Regions from separate parts of the Homo sapiens genome. Here region 1 is linked to region 2. Evidence: fine-mapped expression QTL. Tissue or cell type: tibial nerve. Region 2 holds a variant in brackets; the other region holds the start of a gene. All regions are shown on one strand. Distances are between the middles of the regions.

Region 1 (8,105 bases), 210 kb before region 2:
CCTCCCTTCTCTGCCATGGTCTTCTACTCTCATCACAATGATGACTTGCTCCCACTTGGAGTTTGGTTGTAAGTACTAGATGTATTTCTCTGTGAGGATCTCCTTACCTGTGAATGGTCCAGACAGGAGGAGGAACCTTAAGCCCATTTCTTGGGAATCTAATGTGGGCTGACCTTGGCTGGATTAAGGCTGAGATTGGTTATGCAACAAAGCACCTGGGTTCTCACAGCTTGAATCTCCCTGGCTTTCTGTGGAGTGATGACTGGCTACAGGGAGGCTATTATGCCTTATAAAGCTATTTATCTCCCCAAAGGTACATGGCCCATTCCTCTCTTCAGGTTGGGGAGAGGGGTAGGTCGGTTCCAGTCAGGTGCAAGAGTAAAATTCACTCAAAAAAGTTACTTCGAGAAAGTATTAATAGTTATTGAAACCAGTTATCCCTCTTTTAGAGTGTGGGAAAGACTGAGTTATGGGGCAATTTGGATAAGAAAGGAGTTGTTCCATTTTGTGCTGATCCCCTTTGGCCATCTTTTATTCTGCATCTCCCCTGCTCCTCTTCCTCCCCACCCCCCATCCTCCTCTTCCCTGCTTCTTCTTCTGCCTTCCCTCCTCCTCCTCTTCTTTATTTTAAATCATGTCAGAAGAACAAGCAGGTTGAAAGCACCAATGGGCTTACATTGTGAGGGCCTCTGCTGCAGCTGAAACAAGGCCTGGCTGTGTCTGGACAGGTGGCACAGAGCGCAGAGATTCTTGTTCTTGTGTGACCGAGGGGTAATTTGGAGAGAAGGAATCTCCTTGGGGGAAGACATGTGGGTGGGGCCTCTCTGTCCCAGGTCACTGAAGCAGTTTCTAGGGGCAGTGCCTAAGCCGAAGGACCCTGTAGGCCTGCCCTGGTGTAGAGTACCTGTTGCTGGAAGCTGTGTGGGGAGCCTCTGGCCCCCTGGCCTATTGTAAGTCCTGGGGTTAGGTCGGGCTCCCCCTGGGGCTGCTGGATTCACCTGTCATTACGCTCACTGCCCAGGGACCCTGACAAACCTCCACAATGTGGGGCTGAACAAGGGCGCTTAAGGTTCACTGATCTGTGTGTAGAACTTTGCAAAACTGCAAATAAGCGAGAAAATTTGGCTATTCTTGTGACGGGAGATACAAGTTTGCACTTAACATGGAAGCTTGAGAAAAAGAAGGGGAAAAACCCTTCTGGCCCAAAGCCCCACTGTAATCTCCAGAACAATTTCATTTCCTCTGCAGCACCCTGGCTACCCTCGCCCAGGCCTCAGAAAGGTCAGGGGGAGAAGGAGCTTAAAAGCAGGGGCGGGGACGCAGAGGGGTGGCTAGGCCCTTGGCCAGGTAGCAGGTGAGGGCCGGCTGGGTGATGCGAGGGGCCAGGATGGAAGGCCGCAGGACGGGGGAGGGGCAGAGCCACGGCTTTTGGAAGGGCTTGGTGTTTTCTAGAGGGCTTTTTCTTAGGAATTTGCACGGTCCGCCTCTGGGGCGGCTTATTGGGGCTCTCCCCCGCCCCTGCTAGCAGAACAGGTCGCAGGGAGCTCAGGTTTCCGCCGAAGCCTCCAGCCGCCAGGCCGCCAGCACTCCGCCGGCCTCTGCCAACAGGCCTTTCCCGCTTGCTGAGAAAGGGAAAAGCGCGCGCCCCGGGCCCTGCAGGCTGAGATCACGTTTTTGCCGAGCGACTCCGGTACTCCCGGGGAAGCCAAACTGCCCCCTAGCAGCTGCGTCAACCTCGCCCGGCTGCGCGGCCCGGAGAGCGTGTTCCCCGGAAGGGGCTCCCGCAAGCGGCAGCCGAGATCCCCAGTGGTTGCGCGGCTGCCGGGAACCCGCGGGTCTCAGAGAGAAGCAGGCCGCGGGAAGCATTACCTCTCCCCTCCAAAGGGGAACTTGGAACTTTTGAACCCTTTAAAGTGATTGATCATGCTCCACCAGAGAGCGGCTCCACCCCCGCCGCCTTCCCTTGTCACCTCGGCTCTAAGTGTGCGTGGAGGTCGCGCGCGGCGCGCGGGGTCGTGCATTTGGCGCTCTGTGCTGCCAACGTGAGCACCCAGCACCTGAGCGGCTGTCGCGATTTTGGAGGAATCCCGATCTGAGAGCCCAGAACTGGGACATTGGTGCGTGCCTCCTTGCCCACAGCCCTCTAGGTGCAACACGCCAGCGACAATTTTTCCCAGGAAATCCGTCCCTGCGCCCCGGCCCCCCTCCAAGGATGTCCTCGCAGGAGCCGGGCTCCGCACTGGGAGGCTTCAGGGAACGGAGCACTGGGGCTCAAAGCCTCCACGAGTTAAGCTGATTATTAATTTGGGCTGGTGGGAGCCAGTAACACGCTCGACGCCTTTGGCTTTGGGAATTGTCCGGGAGCTGGGACGGAGGCAGGAATGACCCAGGGTTGCGACTGGGAAATGCGAGTTGCGGAGGCTCCCGGACGTAGCTGAGTGGGCTGGGTAGAACTCCCAGGGCAAAGGTTGGCTCTTCCTCGCCCCCAAATAAATTCTTAGTTAACTAGTTTAGACTAAACACATTAATAGTATTAAGTGGTGAAAATAGACAGGGTTGAACGTGGGGGCATGTCAACTGGACCCAGACCTGGTCATACTTCTCCTCTGGTGACAAATCAGGGTGCTTCCAACACGAAAACAGAAAATAGAAATGTAACATTCAACTGGACGAATTAATTTTTGACGGATTTACGGTATGATTTCCTTTCAAGCAGTATTCATTGGTTCTTTCCATCCACAGTGCGGTCCAAAGACAGAAATATAAACAAGCACTTTATGCTTTGCGGAAACCCCTTAACAGTATCTCCCAAAGAAAGATCAAGACACTTTGTGAATTTTCCCCAGATAATGCCTCATATTCCGAATGACTGATCAGAGAACTCCGGTATTGTTAAATAAAATGAGAGGAAGGCGAGTGACGTGGGAGTCGAACAATGGCATTTCTGAATCTGTTTGCTTGATTGACATTTGGGAGCTTCATGACCCCAGAGAATAGGACTCATTACGGTGAATACACCAAAACATCAACCAAGATTAGAACTCTAGATGCTGTTTTAATCCCATTCCAGTCCAAATTATAGTGGGAAAATATAAAATCCAAGTGCAGAGAATCACTCCGTTATATATTGACCTAAAGTTTTAATTGTACTAAGGGGGAAATAAAAGTGGAAACCCTCTATACTTTCCAGAATTTTAGATAGAGCACTGACAGGGAAAATGCATGGATTTGGTAGCGGAGGTACTAAGAATATTTGTGTGGTATACAACATGTCATACTTGGGAGACACTTTATTGGAAAAATAAGTAGAGAGTTTTTTGTATGTATGAGAAAAATATCATAACCATTTCCACTTAAAAAGTGAAGATCATTCTGATGCCCCAAAATAACTGAGGCTAAGAAATAATTAGATACCTTAAAGCTACAGTCTAAATTTCCATGACTGTTTGGAAGACTTCTCTCCAACGCGGGAGGGGAATTTGTTTTTTAATGTCAAAGGTTGTGTTAGCATGTACATTTAACCCAGGAAATTGTGAGAACTCTCTTCAACTCAAGTTGGAAAAAGGGAATGTGTTTGAGCAAAGTCTATTTTTAACAACAGAAAAGTGTGAGTTAAAGTGGACTGTGTGTTAGGTTGGGAATATAATCCATGGCAACTTCACTATACAAGTATTTTTGATTCTTCAGTGGAACTCATCCTCAAATTTTAGTAACTTGAAAAATTGAAGTCTTAAGTATTGTGTATTAAACTGAACCAAGAGATCACAGAAAGACAAAGCTATGGTAAAAGATGTTATAGTTATATTCTCATAGATTTAGTAGGAAAATCACAGCAAAGGAAATGCACCAGGAAGATATGAAATAGAGGAAATATGTTACAAATAATGAAATAGAAGGAGTTGCTGCACAATATAGCTTCACAATCTTATATTTTGAGGGGTAGGTTTTAATGAGAAGCCTCTGCATTGCATGGGAACTGGGAGTCGTAAGAATTATTTATGCAGTAAGAAGGAAAAAAATTAATTATTAGGAGCTCAATAATCACCAAATAAACTCTGAGCTTGGAGGTTAAAAATAGACGGCTATCTTCATGTTCAATTATACAGTATCAATTACTAATACAACTGATGTTTCAGTGTCTCAGCGAGAACAGATACCATCTTCTATGGAGATATCTTGGTATTAATTAATGACTGCTTTATTCTCATTATTCACAAGGAAAAATAGGGGTCGTGTCACATTAAAATTAAGATTATCTTAGTTTATCTGGGCTCTTAAACAAAGATCATTCAAAGTAATTATACTTTGAATTAATCGAGGTAGGCAATTTATCTCGTTATTTTTTTTTGTTCAAAGACAGGAAAATAAAGATCAGAAATAAGCAAAGTTTCATTTTGAAGATAGAAAGAACCAAACAAACATGTCTTGACTTTTGCAGTATTTCCCTTGCTAAAGGGGGAATGAGGGAACTGTAAAAGACGTGACTTTGCAAAGTCAAGTCCTTTTTAAAAGACTCGGATCGAAATTCTTGCTATGCAACAAGGATTCAAGTTTGATTAATTTTCTGCAAGCGACGTGACAGCGGTGTTTTAAAAGATTAATTAAAATTGAAGTGATACGGAGCAGGAATTCAACCTGCAGAGGCGTCCCTGGCGCCTTGGGGGGCTTTGTAAGCGAGTCCCAAGCCCGAACTGCGGGCTTTCCCGAGCCTGGGACGCAACTCCCCGTCTCCTGGAGAGGAACGCGGAATTTGGCAGGGCGCCCGCCTGGCCGCCTGGCATCCTGAGCTGGCCGCCAGCTCTCGGGGGGTGGGGACTGGGTGTGTCCTGGGGAACCCGCTGCCGAGAGAGCAGCTAGCGCAGCTCGCGACGAGCCATTGAGGACCAGGGTCGCGCCGAGAGGCCGGAGGGGGCTCCAGGCAGCCTGGAGCTGACGGCGCCGGGCTGCGTCCTCTTCACCTGGGGGTGGGGGGTGGGGGCACGTACTTTGTGACCAGGATGGTGCCGAGCCCCCTCTACGGCGGGAGCTTGCAGGGGTGCGGGGGTGTGACTGGCGCTCCGCGGACTCGTGTCCACAGTACAGAGGACATGTAGGGTTCGGCCGGGGCGCGGCTGCACCGGGGCCTGCCTCGCGGACCTGGACTCGGGACTCCGGGCGGCCCTGCCTGGTGCCATTGCCTCAGCCAAGTCTCCCACCTCTCTGCTCGGTTTCCCGCCCCACCTTTCCCCTACTACCGCATCCCTGTCCCCTCGCTTCCCTCCGCGATGTCTCCATCCGAGTAAGAAACGAAGCTGAACGCATTGGTAACTGTGCTCAAGAAGATGCAATCGCGGGAGCCCTCAGGGTGGCGCACGGCGGAGAGGCGACGCGGGTGGCGCTGCAGAGGGTACGGTGGGGGGCGGGGAAGAGGGGGGCGTTCGTGTGCAATTAGCCTCCCCAGGGCGCGGACCACGGTGTCCCCTTCTCTCCAGCTGGGGGTCTCGGGTCCTGGCGCTGAGAGGCCGCACCTTGCCTTGCTGCCCGGGCCGTGCACCCGTGGGCCCCAGGGCGACGCGGCGGGGGCGGCCCTAGCGACCTGCGGCGGCGCCGGGAAAGCCCTGCCTCTGCAGCGGGTCCCAGGGGTCGGGGCCTGGAAGGGTCCCTGGGAATGCTCCGCGCCGAGAAGGCTCTGTGGTTTCTCCTCCCCCACACGTCTCCCTCTCCTCCCCTCTTCCCGGGGACCTCAGAGGTGGCGGGGAAGTGGGAAGGGAGGCGGGCTTGCAGACCGTGCAGGCTGGGGAGCCGGAGCTCGGGAGTTGGGGGAGTCCGAGTGAGAACGGAAGCGCGTGGACGCGATGGAAGGGGCCGGGGGAAAGGGGGACGGCACTGGGGAGGGCTGGGGTGCGGGGCAGGCGACAGTCCCTTCCCCTCCGAGCGGCGCGGGGGACCTCTTCCCCGGGGAACCCCCACCCAGCCGTTCCCAACCTCGAGAACAAAGGGTCTGGGAAGCACGGTCGGGGTCGGGGAGCGGAGGTGGAGGGAGGCAGGAAGGCAGGCGGTGGGGGCAGGGGAGGGCGCCTCCCCACGTTTCCTCTCGCGGCCGAATGATGGAAAGCTCCCTCCAGCAAACGCCTCACTGAGGCCGCTTCTGAATCCGGGAGGGTTCGGGTTCGTTACCTAACGGCTGCACTTCGCTCCCTTCCTCCCCCAGCGTCCCCACCCCCTCCGGGGACCGGGGCCCCGGAGCTGCCAGGCCCGCTGCACGCGGCGGCGCGGGAGAAACCACGGGGCAGCAGCGCCCCCTGCAGGTGCCGGGCGCCTCCGCAGCCGCTGCGCGGACCCGACTCTTAAGGTGGCACCACCGGGTTCCCAGCCCGCGCGCAACCCGCAGCCCTGGCTCCATCCGCCGCACTTCTCCCTGTAGCGGCGGGCCTGACCGTCCGGAACGGCCGGAGTGTGCTGATGCCTGCTGCTATCTGCTTGATCCCTTCACCCTACCTCTCATCCAGGACTTCTTCCGCGGATGCGCAGCTAGCGATTTCGACAGGCGAGATTGAAAATTCCGGGCGAGTATATGAGGTTGAGTAAGTCCCGCTTCAGGGAGGAACGACCAGAATGACATTTCTTTAAGCCTAAATCAAACTTTTATTTTCGTTTATAAAAAGCAGAAGGCCAGCAGGAAAGGGTCGCGGAGGACTGGCACATCCACAACCGTAGGACTCTTGGATCCAAGTTTTTAGGCTGAGACTGGGCGGTCCGGGGTTCTCCTTCGGCGCTCACACCCCGCAAACTCGTGGGCAGTGCAGTGCTGGAGGCCGGGGGCAGTGGCGGACCCGCAGGGTAACCTTGTCTCGCGCACCTCCCGAGCCCCCAGCAGCCCACTCTCGTCCGAATGCTTTGTTTATTTGGTGACACCAGGGAACGTGGAGAAGAAGATCGAAGTTCAGTTTTTCTTTTTTCTTTATTTTAAATATTTTTCTTAACTAAATGGTATGTTTATGTGAACCCATCATCTCTTGGAATTAAGTGTCCTCAGCGAACTCCAGATTCCTAGGGGAAACCTACGTGCCCAGAGCAGGAAACGCACAAGTCAATTCAGGTTCCGGTGCCATCCGCAGTAAATTCCCTTCCTTTTGCTCCAAATTCCTCCTCTGCGTCCAGGAGAGGGACCCCCGGGACTCCCGCACACCCAGGACCGGGAGCGGCAGAGCAGAGGGCGGGTGCGAGGGCGCGAGGGAAGGGAGGCGGCCTGCGGACCTGGGGCGCGCAGTTTCCCGGCTCCGTGGGAACCTCCAACCCCGGGGCGCGCGGCCTAGGCTCCGCCCTGCCAGGCTTGGGGCCGAGCGGCCCACCTAGTGGGTCCTGACCTGGGGAAGCCGAGTCCGCGCGCGGGTCGGGCCGCGACGAGGGAAGCTCGCCTGGGCAAGTGCCGCGCGGGGTCAGACCCACCCCAGGGGTTGCAAACCGCAAGCGAAAGTCGAGAGGGGCTGGAGCTTTCCCTCTGATCCGTTTTACACTGTGAAAACCGCAGGCCTGTCGCCTAGGCGGCCACTTTTAAATTGGGAAGCAAATAGACGAAAAACCAAAACAAACGTACGAGCTGACTTTTCCCAGCTAAGTTTCCCCTCAATAAAAAGCCCGCTTTCTGGGAAAGACAGAAACTGATCCGCGCTCACGATTGCTTTCTTGGAGATTCTGGGGGCACTGGGGCGCGCAGGAGGCGCGGCGACAACCCCAGCGCGCATGGGGCAGCCTGGACTGTGCCCCTCTTACCAAGCTCCTTCCCAGGCTTCTCCGTGCTTCTCTCTCCACTGGGGTCCCGCCTCTCCACGGGTCACGCCGAGGCTATATGCTGCTTGCAAGGGGTCCGCGCTTTCTCGTTCGGCGGGAAAGGCACATGTTGGAGCTCGATGTTGGGGCTCAGGGTGTGGTTGATTTGTCTGCTGATCTGGGTTTCTTCCCAGCACCGGGCAGGAAGTGTAGGAGTTTGGGTCGCCAGTCCAGGGACTCGGGAAACTTCCAGGCCAACCAGAAGAAACACTTGCAGACACCTTTCGAATGTCACAGTTTTCCCCAGGGGAAAAAGCAGAAGTTGCTGGGCACATCACCCAGCACCCGGGCAAACT
Region 2 (8,105 bases):
TTTGGGAACAACCGGGCTTAAGTCCTGATTACTGCCCTATCATAAAATATAAAAAGGGCCGGGCTCAGTGGCTCATGCCAGTAATCTCAACATTTTGGGAAGCTGAGGCGGGTGGATCACGAGATCAGGAGTTCAAGACCAGCCTGGCCAAGATGGTGAAACCCTGTCTCTACTAAAAAATACAAAAATTAGCCAGGCTTGGTTGTGGGCACCTGTAATCCCAGCTACTCGGGAGGCTGAGGCAGAGAATTGCTTGAACCCGGGAGGCAGAGGTTGTAGTGAGCTGAGATCCTGCCGCTGCACTCCAGCCTGGGCAACAGAGCAAGACTCCGTCTCAAAAAAAAAAAATTTTTATATATATATATATATATATATATATATACACACACACACGTATATATTGTCAGATGGTAATAATTTTCTTTTTCTTTTTTTTTTTTTTGGCGATGGAGTCTCGCTCTGTCGCCCAGGCTAGAGTGCAGTGGAATGAGTTCGGCTCACTGCAACCTCTGCCTCCTGGGTTTGAGCAATTCTCTGCCTCAGCCTCGAAAGTAGCTGGGATTACAGGTGTCTGCCAGCAGGCCCGGCTAATTTTTGTATTTTTAGTAGAGACGGGGTTTCACCATTTTGGCCAGGCTGGTCCTGAACTCCTGACTTCGTGATCCACCCGCCTTAGCCTTCCAAAGTGCTGGGATTACAGGCATGAGCCACCGCGTCGGGCTTTTTCTCTTTTTTGAGACACAGGCTTACTGTGTCACCCAAGCTGGAGTGCAGTGGCACGATCTTGGCTCACTGCAAACTCTGACTCCTGGGTTCAAGTGATTCTCCTGCCTCAGCCTCCCAAGTAGCTGGGACTACAGATGCCTGGCACCATGCCTGGCTAATTTTCATAGTTTTAGTAGAGACAGGGTTTCATTATGTTGGCCAGGCTGGTCTCGAACTCCTGACCTAGTGATCCGCCCGCCTTGGCCTCCCAAAGTGCTGGGATTACAGGTGTTAGCCACCATGCCCGGCTGGCAGCAATGATTTTCATGTCTTGTTATTACTTCACTCCTTTGATTACTGGTGTCATAATGATTACCATTTGTTTAATGGTTTCTAGGTACCAGGTACTTGGCTAAGCACTTTATATGCATTATCTCTTAATTCTCACAATCCTATGGGGATACATTGCATTATTCATTGCTTTTCAGAAGAGAAAATTGAGACAGATTAATAGCTTGCCTGGAATAACTCACATAGTATATGGATATGAACATATGCTCTGCCTATTTTTTTTCAGAGATGGTTTCATAATTTTTATTTTCTTACAGTTTTTTGCACTGGGATCCAAATAAGGTCTATACATTGCAGTTGGTTGACAGCTGTACCCTTTTTCCATCTCTTCTATTTTCTTTGCAATTTTTTTGTTGTTGTTGAGAGAATGTCGTTATTTGTCTTCTAGATTTATTTTCAGTCTTGATTTTGCCAATTCAGTATGTACTAACATTTAACATTTCTTCTATCTCCTGTATTTCCTGTGAAGTGATATATCTGGATTATAGGGGTTTGATTAGATTTTTAATGAATACTTTCAATGGTCTCCCATTATAATTTTAATTTTACTTGCATTTCTCTTATTGTATGTAGAGTTGAACATACTTTCAACCCTTTGACTCTTTTTCTTTTCCACGGAGTCTCACTCTGTCACCCAAGCTGAAGAGCAGTGGCCGAATCTTGGTTCACTGCAACCTCCACCTCCCTGGCTTAGGCTATTCTTTTGCCTCAGCCTCCCAAGTAGCTAGGACTATAGGAACATGCCACCCTGCCTGGCTAGTTTTTGTATTTTTGGGAGAGATGGGGTTTTACCATGTTGCCCAGGCTGGTCCCAGACTCCTGACCTCAAGTGATCCACCTGCCTCGGCCTCCCAAAATTCTGGGATCACAGGCATGAACTACTGAGCCCAGCCTAACCCTCTGGCTCTTGACCAAGGCTCTTAGCTTCCACTTCTTTTATGGGAGTTCTCATGACTTCCTGGATTCTTTCCCTTGACCTGCCACTGCTGACCTCCTGGTCTTTGTGATGGATGCCGGTACTTGCTTCTCTGTTAACGGTTGCTTCTGGTTGTGGATTTTCAGCTTCTGGAACCCGTAACCAGCCTTGGTTCTTATTAGGGAATTCTGCTCAGATTCTCATTCTGATTACTTGGATCTTGACCTTTTTGAATAATCCTCTGGTCTGTACCCTCTGCCTCCCCACCACCCTTTGTTGGTCACACTTGTCGCTACTGCCATCTCCACTCTGGTGTGAACAAAGGTCAAATTGTCTGTTCCTGTATGATTTCTACAGTATTTATAGCTGTAGTCTGCTTTTTTTTTTTTTCTGAGATGGATTCTTGCTCTTTCACCCAGGCTGGAGCGCAGTGGCGCCATCTCGGCTCACTGCAACCTCCGCCTCCCAAGTTCACGTCACGCCATTCTCCTGCCTCAGCCTCCCGAGTAACTGGGACTACAGGTGCCCACCACCACGCCTGGCTAATTTTTTTGTGTTTTTTAATAGAGACAGGGTTTCACTGTGTTAGCCAGGATGGTCTCGATCTCCTGACCTTGTGATCCACCCGCCTTGGCCTCCCAAAGTGCTGGGATTACAGGCGTGAGCCATGGCGCCCTGCTATAGCTATAGTCTGAATCCAGTCTGCTAAAGGCCAAAAGCAGGGGTAGAGGCATGTCAACCTCACGGTGATACATGCAAGATAACATGTTTAGTAACAGAACATCTTTCTTAATATGGCAATTTTCTTCAGATAGGATATCAATGGAGACATAACAATGTTGGTAGCATTTCATTGGCCTGGCCGTGCCCCACAAATGGAGAATGTTAGTAATTTTCCAAGACCAGCTCTGGGCTACAAAGAATGTTATTAAATAAATCATTAAAGATAAAAAGATTCCTGAAATGGCAAGTATTTTCTGTCTCCAGTGATGAAAACCAAATATGCTGCTCCCATTGCAGACATGTATAACTTATTAGACTGTTTCAAGAACACAATAGGATGAAATCAGTGACTAAGAGAAAATAGAAAATAAAATCCATTCATTCATCCAGTCACAGATAGGCTGAGAAAGAGCCAAGGTCATAGTGAGGAAGAAAATCTGAAGGCCAAGTCTAAAGAGAGGGGGAGAACCAGAGATGGAAGAATGAGCGGTGATGTAAAAAGCCAGAAGGTCTGAGCCCCGCATGGAATGTGGCCTGAGGAATGGGTCAGGGCGAGAAGTTCAAAATTAAGACCCTGGACAGTGGATGCACTTAACTCTCACAGGGTGTGGGGTCCGGGGTGGCTGTTTACAGCATAGCAGCCAAGCATGGCATGGTGACTCAGTGGCCCCTAAATGGGATGATTCATGAGTCACA[G/A]GAGTGACTCCTTTGCTTTAGTGATTGATGCCTTACTTGATTCTTACATGATCTGAAATCTCATTGTAATAACGACTTTAGACACTTCCTGGAAGTAGAACAGCTTATCTTGAAAAATTTCAGTGAAGCCTGTGAAGCCCAAAAATTCAAGACAGGTGTCAGTTAATTTAGAAAGTTCATTTTGCCAAGGTTGAGGACATGCCCATGACACAGCCTCAGGAGGTCCTGACGACATGTCCCCAAGGTGGTTGGGGCATAGTTTAGTTTTATATATCTTAGGGAGATGTGAGACATCAATCAGTATATGTAAGAAGCACTCTGATTCGGTCTGGAAAGGTGGGACAACTTGAAGCAAAGGCAGGAAGATGGGGAAGGGCTTCCAGGTAGGCGAGAAAGGAATGGTTGCATTCTTTTGAGTTTCTGATTAGCCTTTCCAAGGGAGGCCATCAGATATGCATCTATCTCAGTCAGCAGAGGGGTGACTTCGAATAGAATAGGAGGGATGTTTGCCCTAAGCAGCTCCCAGCTTGATTTTTCCCTTTAGCTTAGTGATTTGGGGCCCCAAGATTTATTTTTCTTTCACAAGCCTTACAAGCTGCACCAATGATCTACTCGATAATGGCACACTTCTGTAACCATGAATCTGTCCTTCGAAAAACAGAAAATTAAAATAGTCCTTTCCACAATGCAAACTTAAACTTTAAACAATGTCATAGTGACTCAGTTAGGATGGTGCTTTTCTTATTTTATAGAGGTGGGATTTTGCTCTGTCACTCAGGCTAGAGTGCAGTGGTACCACGATAGCTCTGTAGCCTCAAATTCCTGGGCTCAAAGATCCTCCTGCCTCAGTCTTCCAAGTAGCTGGGATTACAGGCACAAACCACCATGCCCTGTGAATGGTGCTTTTTCATACAAAATGCACAATCAGTTCACAAAAACAGGATGTAAAAAATCATGATCTAATGTGAGATTTGTTAATTTTGATGCAAAACTCAGTAGACCAGTTGGCTTGAATATGATGGGTTTTCATGTCTTTATTAGTCCAGCTTTGAGGAAGCTGTGCAAGGGAGAGTGAGGAAGCCTCCCTAACCCCTTTAGGGCAAAACTTCTTCAGAGTAGAACCAAGTTTGGCGAGTCTCTGAGGTCTAGAGTGAAATACAATAAAATTTGCATTTATATAGCACTCCTTGTGCTCTTCCTTTATGTGTGCTATCCATATTAAATAAAAACACAATTAAGAGTTAGTTCTAAAATACCAGGTCAAATATATCAAACAAAATCAGGAATGGCAATTAGTGCTAGAATACCAGAACAAACAGATGGCTATTGAGTTTGGATTTAAGAAGAGAAATAAGATGTGCTTGCTGCATATCAATGGAGGAGTAATTCTGGAACTTGGGCTGACTTGGGCTGGGAGGGTGGGCTGCAGGAAGAGCCAAGTTGGGACGGTGATCAGGCCTAGGCATTGTAATGATTAGAAAGAACAAAAGCTCAGTGCAGCTGAAATTAGTGGACATGCACTATGTGCCAAGGAAATATCATCAGACTGAATTCTGTCTTCAAGCCACTTCATTTTCGTTTTTTTTTTTTTTTTTTTTTTTGGAGACGGAGTCTTGCTCTGTCACCCAGGCTGTAGTGCAGTGGTGCGATCTCGGCTCACTGTAACCTCTGCCTCCTGGGTTCTACAGATTCTCCTGCCTCAGCTTCCTGAGTAGCTGGGACTACAGGCGTGAGCCACCATACCTGGCTCATTTTTTTTTTTTTTTTTTTTTTTTAGTGCAGATTAGGTTTTGCTATGTTGAACCAGGCTGGTCTCGAACTCCTGACCTCAAGTGATCCACCCACCTGGGCCTCCCAAAGTGCTGGGATTACAGGCTTGAGCCACCATGCCCGACTGGCCAAGCCACTTAGAGTCCGATGGAGGACCTTCACTATTTGTTGCAGTCTAAGACCTAAAATAAACCCATGCTGCTCTACCTAAGCCCTGAAAAGAAATTCAGCTCAGGTCCCTTATCTGTTCTGAAGTCTAAGAAGCTCTGAAAACCCAAAAGATTTTCTTAAGGAGAAGCTGAAATTTTGTAGTCTTTACCTATCCCACTTGGTATGAATATTCATATGATTCACTGCAGAAATATTAATAGGTTTGATTGAGGGGTCTTATTCCAGACTCTGCTGGGTGTGTTACATGGAATATAATAGAATATATGTACTCTATAACCTTTCTAAAACCAAAAATCATCCAAATTCTGGAATACCACAGGCTCCAAAGTTATAGGGAAGGGGTCCAGATCCAGACCCCAAGAGGCGGTTCTTGGATCTCACGCAACAAATAATTCAGGGGGAGTCTGTAGAGTAAAGTGAAAGCAAGTTTATTAGGAAAGTAAAGGAATAAAAGAATGGCTACTTTGTATACAGGGCAGCCCCAAGGGCTGCTGGTTGCCCGTTTTTATGGTTATTTCTTGATGATATGCTAAACAAGCGGTGGATTATTCATGCCTCCCCTTTTTAGACCATATAGGGTAACTTCCTGTTGTTGCCATGGCATTTATTTGTAAACCGTCATGGCGCTAATGGGAATGTAGCAGTGAGGACAACCAGAGGTCACTCTTGTTGCCATTTTGGTTCTGGTGGGTTTTAGCTGGCTTCTTTACCGCAATTTTTTTTTTTTTTTTTTTTGAGACACAGTCTTGCCCTGTCGCCCAGGCTAGAGTGCAGTGGCATGATCTCTGCTCACTGCAACCTCTGCCTCCTGGGTTCAAGCTATTCTCCTGCCTCAGCCTCCCAAGTAGCTGGGCTTACAGGTGCATGCCACCATGCCTGGCTAATTTTTTAAAATTTTTTGTATTTTCAGTAGAGAAGGGGTTTCACCATGTTGGCCAGGCTGGTCTCGAACTCTTAACCTCAGGTGATCTGCCTGCCTCGGCCTCCCAAAGTGCTGGGATTACAGGCGTGAGCCACTGCGCCCTGCCTATTGCAACCTTTTTTTAATCAGCAATATCTTTATGACCTGTATCTTGTGGTGACCCTTTATGTCATCCTGTGACTTAGAATGCCTTAACTGTCTGGGAATGCAGCCCAGTAGGTCTCAGCCTCATTTTACCCAGCTCCTATTCAACATGGAGTTGCTCAGAGGTTCACACGCCTCTGACAATATGACCTGTTGTAAAATGGTCTTTCTTCAGCCTCTAGTTCCTCACTGCACAGTCCCTATTAATTCAATATATGGCTTTGTTCCTCAGGCTCCAGCTGAACTTTCTGTCATCAATGCTTCTTTTTGCTTCTTCTTCTTTTTTTTCCCCCCTGCCTTTGGCCTTAACTTCTTGATCTGGTGGCAAAGGTATGACTTCGTCCTTCCTGGGAGCTCTTTCCTTGGCATCATTCCCTGACACTATGGTAGCCGTCCCTCCCTTTTGCCTCTGTGACCAAAGCTTGGTTTTGTTTGTTTGCACCTTTCCTTAGGTTTGTGCTCCCTACGGAGCCTCTTGCATTGTAGGTACTAATAAATATTTGTAATGAAGGAATTCCCCAAGGCCTGGATTGCTGCTCTCTACCCCCGCAGAGAGCTCATCCATTCACAGCAGTCACCGGCTGGGCAGAGGCTCCTAAATCTACATATTCACTTCTGACCTGTCACTGGAATTCCTCTTCCATTGTTGCAGATGTTTACTGATCTCTTTGGCTAACTGTCTTGCTAGCACCTCATTTTCAACCTCTCCCTTCAAAAGTCTCACATACGCACAAATCCCACACTTGCATCTATAGGAATGGGAAGAAATTGGTAGGCTGGAGGAATGGTTGTGGGACAGAAGGAGGGAAACTTTTAAAACAATTGCATCTTTTGTTTGTTGTACCTTCACGTGTATTACTTAAAAAGAAAGGAATTTATTTTTCAAAAGGAAAAGTTACATGACATTCTGGAAAAGGCAAAACTATGGATACAGTAAGAAGACTGTTGGTGACTAGGGGCTTGAAGGGACGGAGGGATGAGAAGGGGGAGGACAGAGGACTTTTAGGGCAGTGAAATTATCCTGTAGGTTCCTTTAAATGGGGGATGTGCATCATTATGCATTTTTCCAAATCCATAGAATGCACAACACAGACAGAACCCCCAAAGTAAACTATGGACTCCAGGTGATCGTGATATGTTAACGTAGGTTTATGTAGGTAACAAATGTCCCACACTGGTGTGGGATGTCAGGATGTGGATGGTGGGGAGGATGAATGTGTGTTTGGGGAGGGGCTGTGCGGGAACTCTGCACATTTTACCCCATTTCATGTCAACCTAAAATGGCTCTAAAAATGTCTATTAATTATAAAAAAAAAAAGAAAGAAAGAAAAGGAAAGACAAGCAGCAGAGAGTGGTGGTGTGTACCTGTAATCCCAGCGAGTTGGGAGGCTGAGGCAGGAGGATTACTTGAGGCAAGGAGTTTGAGACCAGCCTGGGCAATATAGCAAGATCCCTTCTCTCTAAAAACACACACACAAAAAACCCCAAAACCAAAAAACAAGGGCTTGCACTGGGCCAGAATGCTTGGTATTTTGTGCTGGAAGCTCACTATATTTACACTAATTAGAGTCAGTGCAGACAAACTGATTATTCATAAAAGGAGGAAGTAGTTCACTCACTCAGGCTGGATTCACTAGATCCCTGTTGACAGCTCAGGCCTCCAGGTCTGGTGAATCCCAGGCATTTTGTCTTTCCTTTGGAAGAGCA

Alleles and levels. Alleles are on the strand shown, and positions count from the first base shown. SD is a standard deviation of normalised expression in the study named.
In carriers of allele G in region 2, the expression in tibial nerve of the gene that starts at base 4,876 in region 1 tends to be lower than with A alone (small effect, 0.23 SD a copy in GTEx).

Evidence for each region. PIP is the estimated chance that this variant, and not a neighbour inherited with it, causes the effect.
Region 1: MIR1915HG starts here. The variant in region 2 is fine-mapped to the expression of MIR1915HG in tibial nerve (GTEx, PIP above 0.99).

The regions. Positions count from the first base shown.
Region 1 is chr10:21,494,031-21,502,135 of GRCh38, reverse strand. It overlaps MIR1915HG (MIR1915 host gene), which reads left to right and starts at 4,876. Exons shown (of 2, transcript NR_160800.1): 1 at 4,876-5,386; 2 at 6,191-8,105. It overlaps MIR1915 (microRNA 1915), which reads left to right and starts at 5,495; the gene lies at 5,495-5,574. RefSeq lists silencers at 5,396-5,645, 5,856-5,905, 5,956-6,395, 7,209-7,308 and an enhancer at 6,820-7,613.
Region 2 is chr10:21,281,098-21,289,202 of GRCh38, reverse strand. It overlaps a transcript of NEBL not described here. Among named protein-coding and RNA genes, the nearest start is that of LINC02643, 88 kb to the left of the region's middle. RefSeq lists enhancers at 1,404-2,163, 2,924-3,683, 6,029-6,705, 6,706-7,384. The variant G/A (reference allele first, on the strand shown) is at 3,392.